3 linked regions of the Homo sapiens genome follow. The protein of the gene in region 2 interacts with the protein of the main gene of each other region in a biochemical or structural test. Each region holds a gene or a part of one and is shown on either strand. Other genes may lie near its edges.

Evidence for each region.
Region 1: the proteins of PPP1R12A (region 2) and PRKG1 form a complex in vitro, tested with the Homo sapiens proteins (one study listed by BioGRID).
Region 3: of the proteins of PPP1R12A (region 2) and CDKN3, one has a biochemical effect on the other in vitro, tested with the Homo sapiens proteins (one study listed by BioGRID).

Annotation. Positions count from the first base shown.
Region 1 is NC_000010.11:52,295,475-52,298,878, reverse strand, and holds the end of PRKG1 (cGMP-dependent protein kinase 1), read right to left. Parts: 3' UTR 529-3,404; downstream 1-528. UniProt on the Homo sapiens protein: Serine/threonine protein kinase that acts as a key mediator of the nitric oxide (NO)/cGMP signaling pathway. GMP binding activates PRKG1, which phosphorylates serines and threonines on many cellular proteins.
Region 2 is NC_000012.12:79,806,088-79,813,127, forward strand, and holds part of PPP1R12A (protein phosphatase 1 regulatory subunit 12A), read right to left. Parts: intron 3,924-7,040; coding exon 3,708-3,923; intron 2,491-3,707; coding exon 2,396-2,490; intron 1,244-2,395; coding exon 1,139-1,243; intron 247-1,138; coding exon 79-246; intron 1-78. UniProt on the Homo sapiens protein: Key regulator of protein phosphatase 1C (PPP1C). Mediates binding to myosin. As part of the PPP1C complex, involved in dephosphorylation of PLK1. Capable of inhibiting HIF1AN-dependent suppression of HIF1A activity.
Region 3 is NC_000014.9:54,413,995-54,420,746, reverse strand, and holds the end of CDKN3 (cyclin-dependent kinase inhibitor 3), read right to left. Parts: intron 4,849-6,752; coding exon 4,817-4,848; intron 2,900-4,816; coding exon 2,796-2,899; intron 2,534-2,795; coding exon of another isoform or gene 2,474-2,533; exon of another isoform or gene 2,441-2,473; intron 756-2,440; coding exon 669-755; 3' UTR 529-668; downstream 1-528. UniProt on the Homo sapiens protein: May play a role in cell cycle regulation. Dual specificity CC phosphatase active toward substrates containing either phosphotyrosine or phosphoserine residues. Dephosphorylates CDK2 at 'Thr-160' in a cyclin-dependent manner.

The DNA.
Region 1 (3,404 bases), on a different chromosome or scaffold from region 2:
CTAGGCTTTGGAGAGTTGAATTTGTTGTAATCATATTGTTCCCCAAATGTTTCTTCTTTGTGCATATGATGAAGCCAAGGAATCAGGTGAAAAATCCTTGGACAAAGACTCATGAAGTTGCTTTTCATATGAAATCATTTCCTCCTAGGATGTAGTAATATACAAGAATTGTCCCTTTGATTGTTTTGCCTAGTACAGAGTTTGACTAGGGATAGCCCAAAAAAGGACTGTGTGGTGGTCATGCTCAGAAATCTGCTAATTTCTGAGTTTGTGTGAATATCTATATTCACTTTGCTTTTCACACTGGATGGCCCAACATTATTCCTATGAATTCTTTAAAACCAATTTGTTGGATTAGTTTTATATTAGATTATAATATAGTATATTATTTCATGAGGGATGCTTGGATTATAGGTATTTCCTACTTTGTTATAGTGACATTCTACAACAGCACTACCTGGTATTTCATCTAGTATGATATACCAATTCTATTCTTGGAATCTTGTCTGGAATTAAACATCAACTAAGTTCAAAAGTAATTATTTTTTTATTTCAACTCTATAAAGTATACAACAGGCACTCAGCAATTACAGCTGCAGGAAAAATACAGAGCAAATCAAAGCAGGTAAATTTATGAAAAAGTTTTTAATCTACATCAAAAGAGTGCAAGTGGTCAATGACCATTTGATGACAGTTTGTTGCATTCTGACTAACAAAGAACTCTTTCATGTAGAACAAATTGTAAGAGGACAATCAAATAACCATAGCTGTAAGAATACAAAAGAACTGACCAGTTGTAAAAACATCATACATTGAAATAAATTTGATAGATGATGCTTAAAGAAATGTCCCTTTACTCAGAAAGCCCCAACCTCTGAGTCATTGCCAAGGTCCCAGAGCTCTGTCTGTTGATTCAGGGGCAGAGAGGAGGGCTAACAACACACTTTCAATGTTTTGCTTTCTAGGTCTGTTGAAAACTTGCCTCGTAAATGATTTGCATATACAAGAACTCGGAAAAAGCATCCTGTTTTGTTGAGAGGTGCACCAAGTGACTTTTTCATCATTGGTTTCATAACGAGGTCTGGTTAGCAGTCATTTCCAATTTTTCTTTTCGGTTGGACCATTGTCAATGGAGTCTATAAAATGAGATATGTTAGAACTTGACTGCACTAATTTATTTTTACAGAATCTGCACAGCTTAGCAAAACAGGAATACCTGTATACAGACTGATAGAATGTCATATATTAATTTGACCTGCACATACATTTATACATTTCACAGAAATGACGCTGTATCTCATTAACAGATACACAGCTCTGGTACATTTAACAGAAATAAGAGAACAACTTCATCATTTCTGTAATTCATCAATATTATATAATAAAGGCTTATAAATTGTTAGCAGAAAGAACTGTAAAACGCAGCAAGCTAAGAAAGGACAACATTTTGAGGTGTGTTTGTCTTTGTCATGCAGCATAACACCAAATTTGTTTTTTTAATAGGATGCCATGAATTTAAGGCACTTGCAACAATGCCAGATAGCCAGGTCATGTTCTAAACTATGGGACAGATGAATAACAGTACAGTTGACATAATTTTCAATAATACTGACAATTATGACATTAATTCAAGTCTACTTGGACCTAAAAACATTATTCAATACAAATAAAATGAAATAATAATGCTGTGAAACACTAAAAAAAGTTATATGTACCACAAAATATCACACAAAAATACCTATTTACATAAATATTTGTCTGTGGTCCTATAGTGAAAGAAAACGTTGTTATGGATAATGCACAGATCACCTCTATTGTATGAAATCAGTTCTAATATCCTTATTTTCAACATGGTAGCTGACTTCATTAAATTTGTTTACCATCAGTTCAGTCATTTAGAAATGAAACAGGAAAAATTCAATAGTTGAGTTTATTACTACACATGTGTAATTCACATGCATATTCCACAATTTTAGGTAAAAATTATGACTTGTAAAGAATATAACCAAAATAAATTTGTTTTGAATGCCACATGGATCTGATTCATGTCTTAATAAGAAAGAAGATATAAACATAAAAAGCATGTATAGCGTTTTTCCAGAAATTATTTTTTCAAATGTATTCAATCTATCCCAGTTGTTTTAATGTTGCTTCCCTTGGCAGTTTCAGTTTTCCTGTGAGTCAAGACACACAGAAAGCCCTTATTTCCCATACTCAACACATTAACAAGAAAATCATATAACAAATCAAACAAGTTGGCACTATTCTAACTTATCCAGATGTTCTTTAATGTAAGAAAATAGAGGGGTTGTGAAAAATTCAGAAATAAAGTGAGATGCATTTTATGGAACTGACCATGAATTTTAGCCCTAGAGTCTTCATTAAGACAAGATTTAAATCCTAAAAATTCAATGTTGACAAAATTAGACGAATGTTTTCTGTTGGTACATCTTGGAAGATGTAGTTTACCTTTATTTTGTGGTAATTACTTCAGACATCAAATGCAATGCTATGGGTGAAATGAACAAAGATGCAGTAACAAGTGGGAGAAACAATCTACAGTTTCTTGTGCTGAATGCTACTTCTTCCTTCTCCATTGAACTTATTCATATTGGTTGTCTTAGACTTGAACCATAGTTCCAAAATCCATAGCAAGTGCTAATCTCTGGGACTTTGGGGATTTTTAAAACGTTATAGGAGCAGATTCTCTTTCCAAATAACAAGGTAAATTTAGTATTCTAGCAAGCCTTTCTTTAGCAAGCCTAAACCACATTATCTTTCAACAAAAGTTACTGAACATTCACTATAATATTGGAATTACATATTTTTAAAAAGCCAATTAAAAATATAAAACTCTTGAAATAACATTCATAGCTAGATTTTAGGTTGATATGTTTAATTTTATATTCTAAAATCTGTAGAAAACAGTGGATATCTTGGGGAATAGACCAATTTGGAGAAATTGTAAGGGACGGAAAACTCCAAAAATACAAGAATAACAATATTTTAGGATTAAAGTTCTAATTGAAGTTTATACCCTTTTCATTTTATCCTCCAAAATTTTAAGAATATTATATTTTCATAAGATACCATATTCTAAGGTAGTTTTGAGTAAGAACAATTCAAGCAAAATTTATAAGATTTGCCTTCTTAGTTAAGGTGTAATGATCTAATTGGACTTTTTCTTCCAGAAATGTAGGCGTTTGATTGATTAAAAAGAAAACTCTACTGAAAAAAAAAGCAAGCGTCAATTTAATATACCAAATTCACACAGGGCCAAAACAGAATGACAGCTTGAAAGCTTCTATATTTTTCTTCACAGGTATAATGTAATTTTGTCCAGGAAATGCTTCCAAATGGCTGAGTTACTTATGACAGCTAATAATAGTCAACTGGCATGCCAG
Region 2 (7,040 bases):
CACAATCTTCTAAACAAAAACGCATGCACATACATAAGCACACAGTAGACCTGAGCACAAAATGTATCTGTGACTTACCTGCTTTGTGTGCCTGCTGAGGAAGAACCCGTTGTAATCTTTGTAGTAGTGCTTGTGCTGGAAAGCAGGCTTTTCTGAAGCCCAGCTGCAGAGGTAACTGTTGGTGTTGATGTGGTGCTTGGAACACTAGAACTAATCAAATCATCTTGTCTTCTACCAAAGGAGCAACTAAACAAAAGAGTCATATCTATATAGGATGTGTTTGTATGTGTATTCTATAGTTAATGTCTATACATTATATAAATTACAAGGCTAGAAAAAAAATTTAAAAACTGTGTTCCTAAATACACCACCAGCTCCAGCACCAAGAGTTGCATCTACAACTTGCTAGAGTTTAGAAGATTTCACTTAATTCGGTAGTGTATCATTTTAGTGCCTCCTCCCAACTTTCTCAACAAGACAAAGATGATCTGATATTTCATATTTTTGAAACTATTCCACACCATATGGTCATGCCAGGCTGAGCCTGAAAAACACACTTTGGTTTTGTATTACCCAGGGAAAACAAGACGTTGACATTTTTTTGAAGGAAATTATTTCAGCAATGGGTCAGATACCTCGGAAGTAACCAATGCCTACATGATACTTGTTCACATCTTATTCTTTTTGGTTGCTTTTAGTAAAGAAATTGTTTATAGGGCTTTTTTTTCCTCTTCAATATGATACTACCAACATTCCAACTGAAGGCATTTCCATAGCTCTGAGTTCTAGGGCAAGCCAAATCTTTCCAGATCAACAATGACAACTAGATCCATTAAGACACTGGCCTGTTTAAGTTGTTCTAGTCAAGGAGTTCCTTCTAAAGGAGTTCCTTTTAAATATGTAACAATCCAAAAAACATTTCATAATATTTGAAGCTTAATTATATAATAGGCATAACAAATTATCACCTATCTTTAAATATATATCCTGTGTTTAGAGTAAGTTTTAAACAACAAAAACTCGTATTTAATAAAAACACATATTTGTTTAAAATGATGTTAAACTGAGGGCTCCAAACAAATTGCCTCATATTTTTATAAATGAATACATAAAAACCGCTTAAGAATAGTATTATTACCTTTTATGATACGTTGATCCTTCATTAACTGAGCTATTTTTTTTAAGATCATCTTCCCATTTTCTCCTTGTATATGAACTACTTGTTCGCAAACTTGAAGAATCTCTGTTAAAAGAACACCCTTCAGATTCTGGTACATAATTTTAAAATAGGATTAAGAAAGCGGTACACTAGTAAATATTAGTATAAGCTGAAACTAGTAAAAACCTTTGGGAGGACACTTAGGAATACTAATCAAGAAGATAAAGTAATTTCAGTACTAAGATTATATACCCTAAGGTATAATTTTTCCCCTAAGTATGGGGGAAAATTCAGATATTTATAGAAATATGCTTTTTGATCACAAAATATAAAGTAGGGGAGATGCTTACTTTAACCGCAGAAGATCTACTTTATAGTATGTTATGTGCCGACAAAAAAAATGCTTATTAAAAATATATATTAACATAGAAGACTGCTTATGAGATCTTAGGGGAAAAAAATAAAAAAATTAGATATTATAACATGATTAAAAGTATATTAAAAAGTTATTGGCCGGGTGCAGTGGTTCACACCTGTAACCCAGCACTTTGAGAGGCCGAGACAGGTGGATCACAAGGTCAAGAGTTCAAGACCAGCCTGGCCAAGATGGTGAAACCCTGTCTCTACTAAAAATAAAAAAATTAGCTGAGCAGGGTGGCAGGTGCCTGTAATCCCAGCCACTTGAGAGGCTGAGGCAGAGAACTACTTGAACCTGAGAGGTGGAGGTTGCAGTGAGCCGAGATTGCGCCACTGCACTCCAGCGTGGGTGACAGAGCGAGACTCTGTCTCAAAAAAAATAAAAATAAAAATAAAAATAATTAAATTAAAAAAATAAAATTCTATAAGCTGAAAAACAGGAAGAAACTAAAATATTTAAACAATATTTAAACAAAAATATTTAAAACAAACTAAAATGATTAAGTAAGGGCTTTCCTTCTTCTTTCCCCTTTCCTAAATGTTCCAAATATTTAGAGAACTCATACTAGTTCATGACCTTATCTCCTCCCACTTTCCCCTTACTCTGTTCCAGCCACATCTTCTTTGCTATTATTTCATGAACATACCAAGCCTGCACCTCCTCAGGACTATGTACCTGGTATTTTCTCCTTCAGGAATATCCTCCATCTCTTCCCACAATACATATCCGCACATAATTACAATGCTCATGTATTAACTCTAATGCTAGATAATAAAGATTTTATAGTGAATGCATAAAGCAAATCAAAATAAACTCACCTGTTTTCTTTCTCTTCAATGTCAGATGTACTGGCTAGTCGTCTTGGTATTGTAGGTGCAACATATGCAAGCCTAGTTCCTTTACTATCTTTCTCCTACACAACAGGGAAAAAAATAAGTAAAAATTAATTTGGGTACTGACTATAGGCAATGCTAAAAGTATTAAGAAAAGGTTATTCAATAATTATAATTACATAGCTATCATAGTTTACAGTATTTCAACAATTCCTAGCTGAACTCTAAAATTAATGTCAATCAATAATCAGCCTGTTCAAATTAGTTTTCTTTCTCTTTTAGCCTGGAATCAGATAATATTTTACTAAGAAAGGAAAAAAATTTCTCCAGATTTTAATGACTTTTTCTAAAACTTCTCTAACAGATTAATACTGTGTCATAAGCTGAAATATCTTTATTTCTTCCAGAGAAATAAACTTTCAAATATTGTTCACTGAGAGGTCTCAAGCATTTATATTATATAAGCTATTTAGAACCTTGATAATCAATGCTCTCAAATACATCAAAATAGTCAAAACAAATATTATTTAAATTATATTTATCCAAATATGGCTAAGAGTGTGTAGTGACAATGACACTCTGATACATTCCTAGTAAGCTGGCATAAAATACCTGGAAACCAACTGCACAGTAAACTGATAAAAAAGCAAAAATATTAGAATTACTTGATGAGAAATTTCATCTGAATTTCTGATATAAGGAAACATTTCTAAGTATAGAAAGAAAACTGTATGGGCAAAAAAAATAGTTCAAGCACTGAATATGCTGTAGAAATAAATACTAGTATTGAATAAACTGTGGTACATCCTATATAATGCAGTATTAATACCACCTCTCAAAATAGTTATTAAATTTACTCATTAAGACAAAGTTGCTTGTAATATGGTAGATGAAAAATCTGGTATTTTTTTTCAGATACTGAATAAATGTAACTTATGAGTATACTAACATTCTAGAATAAATGTGTTCCTATGTTTTTTAAACTTCAGAAAGTTTCTTGAATCATAATAAACAAAATAAGCCTGCTCCTTAATACAGTTCTATTATAAATTCTCAAGTAAGGTAATAGATTCCTTTAACGGAGTATAGTCCCATAATTTATGTTTTAGGCAAATACATCTGATCTTTCCAGTATTTATAATTCTGTATAAATTACATTTGTCTTATGTAATTCATTAAGGTTAATTAACTTGATACCTAGATCTAAAGATAACTAGCAGAAAATCTACCAGATTTGATGTTCCTGGAAAAGAAATCATAACAGTTTTCATAGAAACCAGACTGTGAAATAGATTACCTTTTCTTTATTATCCAAAGAGGAGGAAAGTCTGGGACTTGAAGCTGAACGTGTAACACCTGCAGTATCTTTTTCTTTCTGACCCTCTTTAGATGCTGTGATTTCAGCAAGTGCACCATAGCTGCCCGTCTTTCTAAGTCCTAACCTCCAAGTTGCAGGAGACTCATCTTTTCTCTCTTCTTCTTTGGGAGAAATTTTTGTAGCTGTGGTTGGAAACTGTGTTTATTTTATTTTTTAGGAAAAGAAAAAAGAATTTGTAAAGCTGATCAGTCCTTAAATTGGAAACAATAAGTTTACAGATAATATATTTAAAATTATGGTTTACAGTTTCAGGATAAAACACTTTTACTACATAGGTTAATGTCTTAGTAAAAAATGTAAAGATCTAAAAATTTTAAAGAAATAGACTACCTTCCTAGGGGTTAGACTTAAGAAAACACACTACACACTTTATATCACACAGAAAAATTATGATGCAAATACAGAAAACAGAAATGAGCACACCATAAGGACTTAAAACCATGCATCTTTGGAACCAATTTATATTAAACTTGTTATGTTGTAACCTAATATAAATTCTTGCACATAGAAATGCCTCACCATAGATTTTTCACCCTTACTGGGCACAAGAACAATGCCAGTTTTGCGCAAGCCCTGCCTCCATGATGCAGGATCTACTGATTCCACCACAGGCATGATAGGAGCAATGAAATCATACTAAAGCCAATTAAAATAAGACAGGTAAAGAGACAAAGATTGAAAGCATGAAAACAGAAAAGGGAAGTTATGAACAAAAAATATTTTCTTCATTTGAAAATAATTTTATAATTAACCCCAATAATTGGGTAATGATCCAATCTTTAAAAGTCACTGGGAACAAGTTCTAATTTTAGCATGAGATAATCTGAAAAAAATCTAATAAACTTCTAAAGCAATTAAAAGGCATACAGAGTAGATAATATAGCATGTGACTGAACAAACTACTGCACATGAATTTTGTTTTTAATCCATGTATATACTCTGGTTAAAAAATTTTGTGTCCAATATAATCAACAAAAACTAGTAACTGATATTTTTCCAATTATAATACTTTTTTTTTTAACATCACAGCCTTAAATTTACTGATTTCCCCACCAAACATTAACTATTTCAACTATAATAAAAACTAATTTTATGTACAAATATTTATGCTATTTTAAGGGCTTTCCAACAACCCTAAAAATGCAACCTCTGTTATCTTTAGATCACTTCATCAACTTCACTTCTAGAAATTCTATACTCAACCACAGTTAACTATATAGATTGGTGAATACAGCAACTAACTAGTTGCCACAAGCATAGGGTATTAATAATTTTTTAAAAATCATTTCTTTCATATCTATTGCCAACATTTGCTATAATTAGCAGGTTAACAGGGCTTGTTAAAGCCCCCATGATGATGCTTGAGGGCCACTTCATGGACAAAACTGTTATAAAGATATACCTCTGGTACTTCCAGTAATGAATTGCTATCAATAGTGTCTAAGCATTCCTCAGTTCCTAAAATGTGCACCAAAGTGCTCCAGAGTGTCACAACAAAATCACGGGGGCTCTGTAGAATATTTTAAAGTTTTGAGAGAAGCACAGTGACATCTCATAGACACTGCACAAACTGCCATTTTGATCACATTTCCATCAAACTACTTAATGAGACAAACAGGCAATTCCTTTTGCCAGTGGCACTGTGAAAAAATCCTACCAAACACTAGGGGCTCCAATGACCAAGAAAGTTTGCGAACTCTAATATTCTGTGCAATATGATAGGTACTGAGACAGCTGCTTATTGATTGGTGAGTTTACAGGGCTACACTGTAAATGCTAGGCTTTGTGGAACACAGATAATATTAATACACAAATGATTGAGTGTGGCTGTAACCAATAAAACTTTAGGGACAATGACTTTTTTTTATTTTTTTTCTCCAACCAGTTTGCTATACAAAAACAGGTAATGGGCTAGGTTTGGCCCACCAGCCATAGTTTGCCAACACCCACATTAGGTCTCCCACCTCCTCAAAAAACAGAAACAAAAAAACAAACAAAAAACCTGGAAACAAACGTTTTTTCCCCCATTATAAAACAGCCAGAGTCAGTCAGTCAGATAACATTTATTGTTATAAATGAAGCTAACATTTATTGTTATAAATGAAGCTAACATTTAACAAATATTTACTAGTGTGTGACCCTCAGCTAAGTGCTTCACATGGGTTATCCTGTTTCAACCTTATAATTACCCAATGAAATACTACTATTACTGTTATTTTAGAGTTGAGAAAAACGAGGCAGTACTATCTATCAATTTTGAAATGGGCATTTGTTACACTGTAATGGCTGATATACCTCCACTCTGCCCAACATGAACTTGGATTTAAGTACTGCTTTATATGTCTAAAAGCACCTTTTAATTTTACTTGATATATAAATAAACCCTTCCTGAAATACTTAACTATACCTCCTCCTCCATTAAACTCTCTTCTTTGGCTTTTTTTACTGGACACTATCTTCACCTTCTTTTTCTTTTTACTCTGACCATTCCTTTTCTTGACTGACTCTGTGTGTGCGTGTGTGTGTGTGTGTGTGTGTGTGTGTGTAACGTTCCTTATACAGGCTGTGTGTGTTTGTGTGTGTGTGTGTGTACAACTTTCCTTGTGCTAGCCCTTCCAGAGCCTGCTCTTGGATCTCTCATATTCTCTTTCTACTTTCTTCTCCTGGGGGGTTAGGAGGAGGGTCTTTACTTCCTCAGGCTAAATATTAATTGTAGTCAGCTTATTCTCAAATGTGTTATTCTCCAGTCCAGTCTCCTAAATTTCCAGTCCTAATTTTACCTGTCTATTCTAGGTAAAATTCTACCACACTATTCTAGAGTGGACAATCTAGAACTATAACTGAAAACTTGAAACTCAGTATGTCTAAAATAAAACACCTTTACTTCCAAACCATCTCTTCTTCAGTTCCCTAATTCTGTTAATGGCACTAAGTATATCTCTTCAATCTCCTATGTTTCAAACTTCACAATTATGTTAGACCTTCTCTGTCATTTTCCTCCATCCATAAATTAGAGGTCAAGTCTCTAAATCTCCTCTCCTTTATAAGCCCAGAGTCACTTCTCTAGTTCATATTCTTATCATTGTGGGCAACTTCAATGACTTTCTAATAAACCTTTTCTCAATAAGCCTCTCATCTTCAAATCTGTACACTGCTGTCAGAATAATATTCTATAAAGAATAATCCTCTCATGGCATTGTTCAAACATCTTCCACGACTACTACTTATCAAATAAATTATAAAAGTGTTATC
Region 3 (6,752 bases), on a different chromosome or scaffold from region 2:
CTTTATGAAATAAATGTGAAAGGATTAAGCTCATTCCGTGTAGTTCCTAGGGCGGACAAAAGGTGGAGCAGCTGTCTGAACCAGTGAATTCCTTGTCTCTGAAAATGTTCCAGCCCATAGTGAATAAACACCCTTGGGGCTGATCCAGTACTGGGAGGGGGCGAGTGGAAGACTCACAGGATCCTTTTCAATTCCGGAGGTCTATGAAGTAAAAAGCGGAAGAAGTTTTGGGAGGAATAGAGAGGGAGGGGGACATCATTTAAAAGTAAGTTTGGGCACTCATACCAATTCTCATACTTACTACTTTGTCATATGCTACCCAGTGGTTACAAACAGTAAAATGAAGTAAAAGTGCAGTACTAAGTATTAAAAATAGGCATTCAAATATTTTTCCAAATGCATGTTTTCAGCATTACCTCCAGGTAGAATATACCAGAACAACCAATTCATTTCTAAAAGGAAAATTGCATACCAATTTTCCTATCCCAATTTTCCTATTCCTATAAGAAATGAAAGAGACACAACGAGTTTTGTCAATAAAACTTTAGGAATATCTGCACATGTACATTTACATTCAAGTTGATAACACTGGTGGTTTCATTTCAATACAAATTATGCTAGAGAACTGACATTTCAGACATGGTCATATATATGCTATTTGAATTCCTTTATCTTGATACAGATCTTGATTGTGAATCTCTTGATGATAGATGTGCAGCTAATTTGTCCCGAAACTCATGAAGATAATTGTATTGCTGAAAAAAGTAAAGATACATTGGAATACACTGTAGAAAACTAGTTATCAGTGTGGGCACAATATTAGCAGGTATCAGGAATAAAAAAAAATACTTGCTAAGCACAATTCTACATCTTTTTGGGTAAGGAAGCATTTGCATCATGGGGAAGTTTTATCTTTTAGTAAAGCCATATAGTGTGAAAAACTATTGTTCTACAAGTCTCTAAAAATCAGAAGGTGAAATGAAATGTAGATGGATATGTTTTAAGTCTAAAATTCTTTCTCTCTTTACTTACAGGACCAAATAAGATTAAAACAGTACATAATGGCATTATTTTTGCTAACATTTTTCCCCCCTGGTAAGAAGGACAGAGCACTTTCTGTAGCAAGTAACTGGTATATTTAACAAAATCCATTTCTCAATTTATAGAAGCCCTAGTCTTCTGCTTTTTTGTGATGACATAATGCACTAGGGATAATTTTCATAGACAATATTTTTTAAAAACAAACTGTATTGCTAATCTCAGCAGATAAGCAAAATAAAAGCTTTAAATAATTTATTTGGAGTTTTAATAGCCTCCCAAAAGATATTCTTACTCTGCCAATCATCTCATTTCATATCCTTATTGAGATGTGGAAACTGCATTGCTAACACCAGCAAGCCTGTTTGCCACAGAATGCTGAGGTGATAAACTGAGTCTGTAGTAATATGGACTTAATTATCTGCAATGTTAAAGATGTAAAACATATGGATATTCATATATACATCTGGCCATGGCCATGTAGTTTGTTTTCAAGAGAAGAGAGGTGAACTTTTTGGATTTGAAGCATCATTTGATTTTTTTTTTTTTTTGAGACAGGGTCTCACTTTGTCGCCCAGGCTGGAGTGCAGTGGTGTGATCTCGGTTCACTGCAACCTCTGCCTCCCAGGTTCAAGTGATTTTTGTGCCTCAGGCTCCCAAGTAGCTGGGACTACAGGCACACATAACCACCCTGGCTAATTTTTGTATTTTTAGTAGGGACAAGGTTTCGTTATGTTGGCCAGGCTGGTCTCCAACTCCTGGCCTTAAGTGATCCACCCAGCTCAGCCTCCCAAAGTGCTAGGATATAGGCATGAGCCACCGCGCCTGGCCGCATCGTTTGATTTTTAACATAAAGAGAGTTGTCTGTTTCAGACCTGTACAGTGGAGTGGATCTTGTATGGATTGTCCCGTTAATGACCTTATTTAAGCCCTAAGAATCAGGTTGCTTGGTGAATTTATCAGTAATTATGATAATTCACTGTTAATGACACTGGATTAGACCTCCAACCCTGGGAAGATGGGCTCTCAAGTCTAGGGAGCTGCCTAACAGCCAGGATTCTTTGGTGCCCACTCCTCTGATGAGCGGATTCTAATGCTGAGAGGGCACGCTTCTGAAAAGAAGGCACATTAGCTTTACAGATCTACAAAATGAAGTGACATCTGCAGAATCTTTTCAGTAACATGATTAATGCAATATCCTTGGCATTGCTAGTGCAGTGTTTTGAAGTGTTAGGGGAATGTACATGTGGAAGATGTCCCCAGTTATCTACTGCAAAGGATAATTAGCACTGCTTTCCATTTTTTGTATTATAGTCATTCATCTGTCTTTATTAAATGTTTTGGTGATATAACAAGATCTTCCATAGATTTTTTTTGGCCAAGAATCTACCCAAGAACGTACCAAGTTTGTATTAACAATAACCATCTCATTGTCCTAGGTGAGAGGATCCATTCCCAAAACGGACTGGGGCAAAAACTGAGAAGTAGGTAGATCCTGGAAAAGTAAACCAGGAAGTTCAAATTTTCATTATCTTGTTTGAAATCCTGTGTGCTTTTTTAGACTACCTGGATTATATTTACTTGTAAATTTTTAAAAACTAAAAGCATAAGCAAGTGGTATTTGAATAACAGAGTGCTTTGGATTTTCATTTCACTGCCCTTTTGGATTTTCATATGTAACCTTTTGGTTACACATGAATCTGTATTTGTAACAACGACCCCAACCACAACCAAGCAAGCACCGCCCACCTCCTCACCTTGATGGTCTGTATTGCCCCGGATCCTCTTAGGTCTCGCAGGCTGTCTATGGCTTGCTCTGGTGATATTGTGTCAGACAGGTATAGTAGGAGACAAGCAGCTACTAATGGAACATGACAGAAAAATAATATGTTATTAAATAACTAGTGACAGGGTACAGCATTTTATATTTAATAAGACTTCTGTTGATACAGAAGACTGGTGTAATTGTTCCAAATGAATTAAAAGACTGAGACTTTTAGTGTGTGTTTTTGACAGTTAAATTATGATCTTAAATGACCGTATGGTTGAATTAGAGTTTAACACTGGCTTCATTCTTTCATCCATTTAAAGTGTTCATCCATTCAGTGATTTAGTATATTTACAGATATGTGCAACCATCACCACAGTCAATTTTAAAGCACTTCATCACCTCAGAAAGAAGTGTACCCTTTTGCTGTCATCCTCTATTCCCCATCAACCCCTGCCATAGGCAACCACTAGTGTACTTTGTCTCTGTAGATCTGCCTATTCTGAGCAATCACATAAACGGAAACATACAATATTTTTTTGTGTGTGTCTGACTTCTCTTAGCATAATGTGTTCAGGGTTCATACATATTGTAGCATATGTCTGTATTTAATTCCTTTTTATGATCAAATAATATTCCATTGTATAGATATGCCACATTGTGTTTATCTGTTCGTCAACTGATGGACATTTAGGCTGTTTCCATTTTTTGGCTATTATGATTAATGCTGCTATAAACATTTGTATACAAGTCTTTGGGTATATACTTTGGAGTGAAATTGCTGGGTCATATGTTAATGTTTACTTGTTTGAAGAACTACTGCTAGACTATTTTCCAAAGCCGCTGCACCATTTTACATTCCCACCAACAGTGTATGAGGGTTCGAATTTCTCTACATCCTTGCCAATACTTGTTATTTTTCATGTTTTTATAATACCCTTCCTAATTGGTGTCAAGTGGTATCCACTGTGGTTCTGATTTGCATTTCCTGATGACTGATGATGTTGAGCATCTTCTCATGTGCTTACTGACTATATGTGTATCTTGCATGTAGAAAGGTTTATTCGGATACTTTGCCCATTTTTCAGTTATGTTGTTTGTTTATTATTATTATTTTTTCTTTTGAGAGAGACGATCTCACTTTGTCATCTAGGCTGGAGTGCAGTGGTGTAAACTCGGTTCACTGGTGCCTTGACCTCCTGGGCCCAGGCAGTCCTCCAGCCTCAGTCCCACAAGGAGCTGGGACTACAGGCATGCACCACTATGCCTGGCTAATTTTTGTATTTCTTGTAGAGATGGGGTTTCACCATGTTGCTCATGCTGTTCTCAAACTCCTAAACTCAGGTGATCTTTCTGCCTTGGCCTCCCAAAGTGCTGAGATTACAGGCATGAGCCACGACGCCCGGCCTATCTTTATTACTGAGTTGTAAGAGTTCTTTTTATATTCTGGATACAAATCCCTTATCAAATATATAGATTGCAAATATTTTTTCCCATTCTATGGGTAGTCTTGTCATTTTGATAGTATTCTTTGAAACACAAAAGCTTTCAATTTTGATATCATCCAACACTAAAAAAATAACTACTACTCCAGTGTGGCATTTCACGAACTCTTTTTTGTTTTTCTTAGTACATTAAAACATTTTTTAAATTAACATATAGTAATTAACTTTGGTATTCATAAATAGTTACCCATGGAAACTATTTGGAAGTTACTCTATTATAACACCTCCACAGGAAGAACATCAAAAAATGTTAAAAAATAAGAATGCAGGTGTTAAGACTTGTAAATGATGTTTTGCCAGAATCCTCCAGAACAATGCTGAAAATACCTCCCACTCCCACCCAAGCTTTCCAGGGAACACCATGTTTAGGGCCTTAAGTAATCCTTTGAGTCTTAGCAAACTTATATTTTGCTTGGTTCCATTTTAATACAAAATGAACATATGGTCTGGAAACAGAAGTTTGTCTATTTGGCGGTTAAAAAAATAATAGAAATATATTTCTTACCAAGACAAGATCTCCCAAGTCCTCCATAGCAGCTGAAAGGGAAATACAGTTTTGAAGTTTGTACATTTCATTCCATCCCTAGTTACAACTAAAGACTTGCTCTTTCTGCCTTCTATTTACAACTCTAATGCCTAGCACAGTGCCTTGCACACGAAGATTAATAAATATTTTTGATTTAATCAACTGAGAGCAAGGTGTGCTTATTTCTTTGTTGGGAGGAATTCTGAACACCTCTAAGCATCAAGATAGGCAGAGTCTTCTTATTGACCTCTTTAGGTTCCAAGATCCACATCTGAGAAATGGAGCATGTTACCAATAGATAGAAATCAGACTTTTACCAACTGTCACTTTGATTATTCCTCTGTCTAAACAAAATCTGAGTGGTTACTGCACAAATGCCATGTAGATAATAACCATTCATGTATCTAAAGGAGTCCAGAGATAGGGTATCACCGAAGTCTGGAGCATGGGCTCTGGAGCACCACTGCCTGGGCTTCAGTCCTGGCTCTGCCACTTATTAGATGTGTAAAGCTAAGCAAGTTATTTAATCTCTCTGGGACTCAGCCTTTTCACCTTTAAAATGGTGATAGCAATAGTATGTACATCAGAGTGAGGATTAAATGAGGCTCACAAATGAGTGAGCATTTGCCAAGGACTTAGAACACAGCTTTGTGCAGAGTAAGAAGTAAATGAACATTAGCTGCTGTTATCTAGCACTGTAAAGAAATTAGCAGTTTTGTATAACTGGATTTTCCAGAAAAATGGAGATTAATCCTCAGTAGCAAAACTATTCATTTAAGTCATTTTCAAAGATCCTAAAAAATGTATTACATGCTTCCTAATGTACTTAGAGGGTATACTGAGCCTAATTTAGTGTGGATGACTTATCGTTATGGACATCAATTACTGTATTGTATTGTATTGTATTGTAGGTAAAGCTGTAGATATATATTTTGCTTTAGGATGTGAAATAGAGGACTGAATAGGTATTGACCCCTAGTCTTACTCGTGAACTTGCTTTCCACAAAGTGTTCCAGACATAGAACTGTTTCAGAGATCTGGATCTACCATATAAAGGGAGAGGCTGGGCATGATGGCTCAGGCCTATAATCCCAGCACTTTGGGAGGCCAAGGTGGGAGGACTGCTTGAGTCCAGTAGTTTAAGACCAGCTTTGGCAATAAAGTGAGACCCTGTCTCTCCAAAAAAAAAAAAAAAAAAAAGCCTGGCACGGTGGCGCACACCTGAAGTCCTAGCTACTCGGGAGCCTGAGGTGGGAGGATCGCTTGAGCCCGGCAGTTCAAGGCTACAGTGAGCTATGACAGTGCCACTGCACTCCAGCCTGGGTGACAGAGAAGAGACAACTGCCTTATTAAAAAAAAAAAAAAAGATCAAGATAGAACACTTCAGTGTCTTTTTGCAAGATTAATACTATTTTATACCTTTTGCTATTTTCATCTTTTTTCTTCTATTTGATGAATTCCTACTTATCTTTTAAAACCTCAAATTTCATTTCCTAAAATGCCTTTGTGCTCCTACAGAAAGGATCATTTTCCTGTGTGCTGCCTCTCCTGTCTTATTGCAGTTAAATGGTAGTGTTAGTTATAGGTTCCTCGAAGGTGGGGACTGTGCCTCGTTTGGTAGTCTTGGCGTGTGGTACACGGTAGGTGTTACTGGTTGAATTATGTCCCCCCAAAAGACATGCTGAAGTCCTTATCCTGTACCTGTGAGTGGGACCTTATTCAGAATTTGAGTCTTTGCAGGTATATTCAAGTTAAGACGAATTAGAGCAGGCCCTCATCCTAGATGACTAGTGTCCTTACACAAGGACAACACCATGCAAAGACACAGACATCCGAGGAAGTGTGTGATGACAGAGGCAGACTGGAGGGATTCAGCTGCAAGCCAAGGCCTGCCATGGATTGATGGCCACCACCA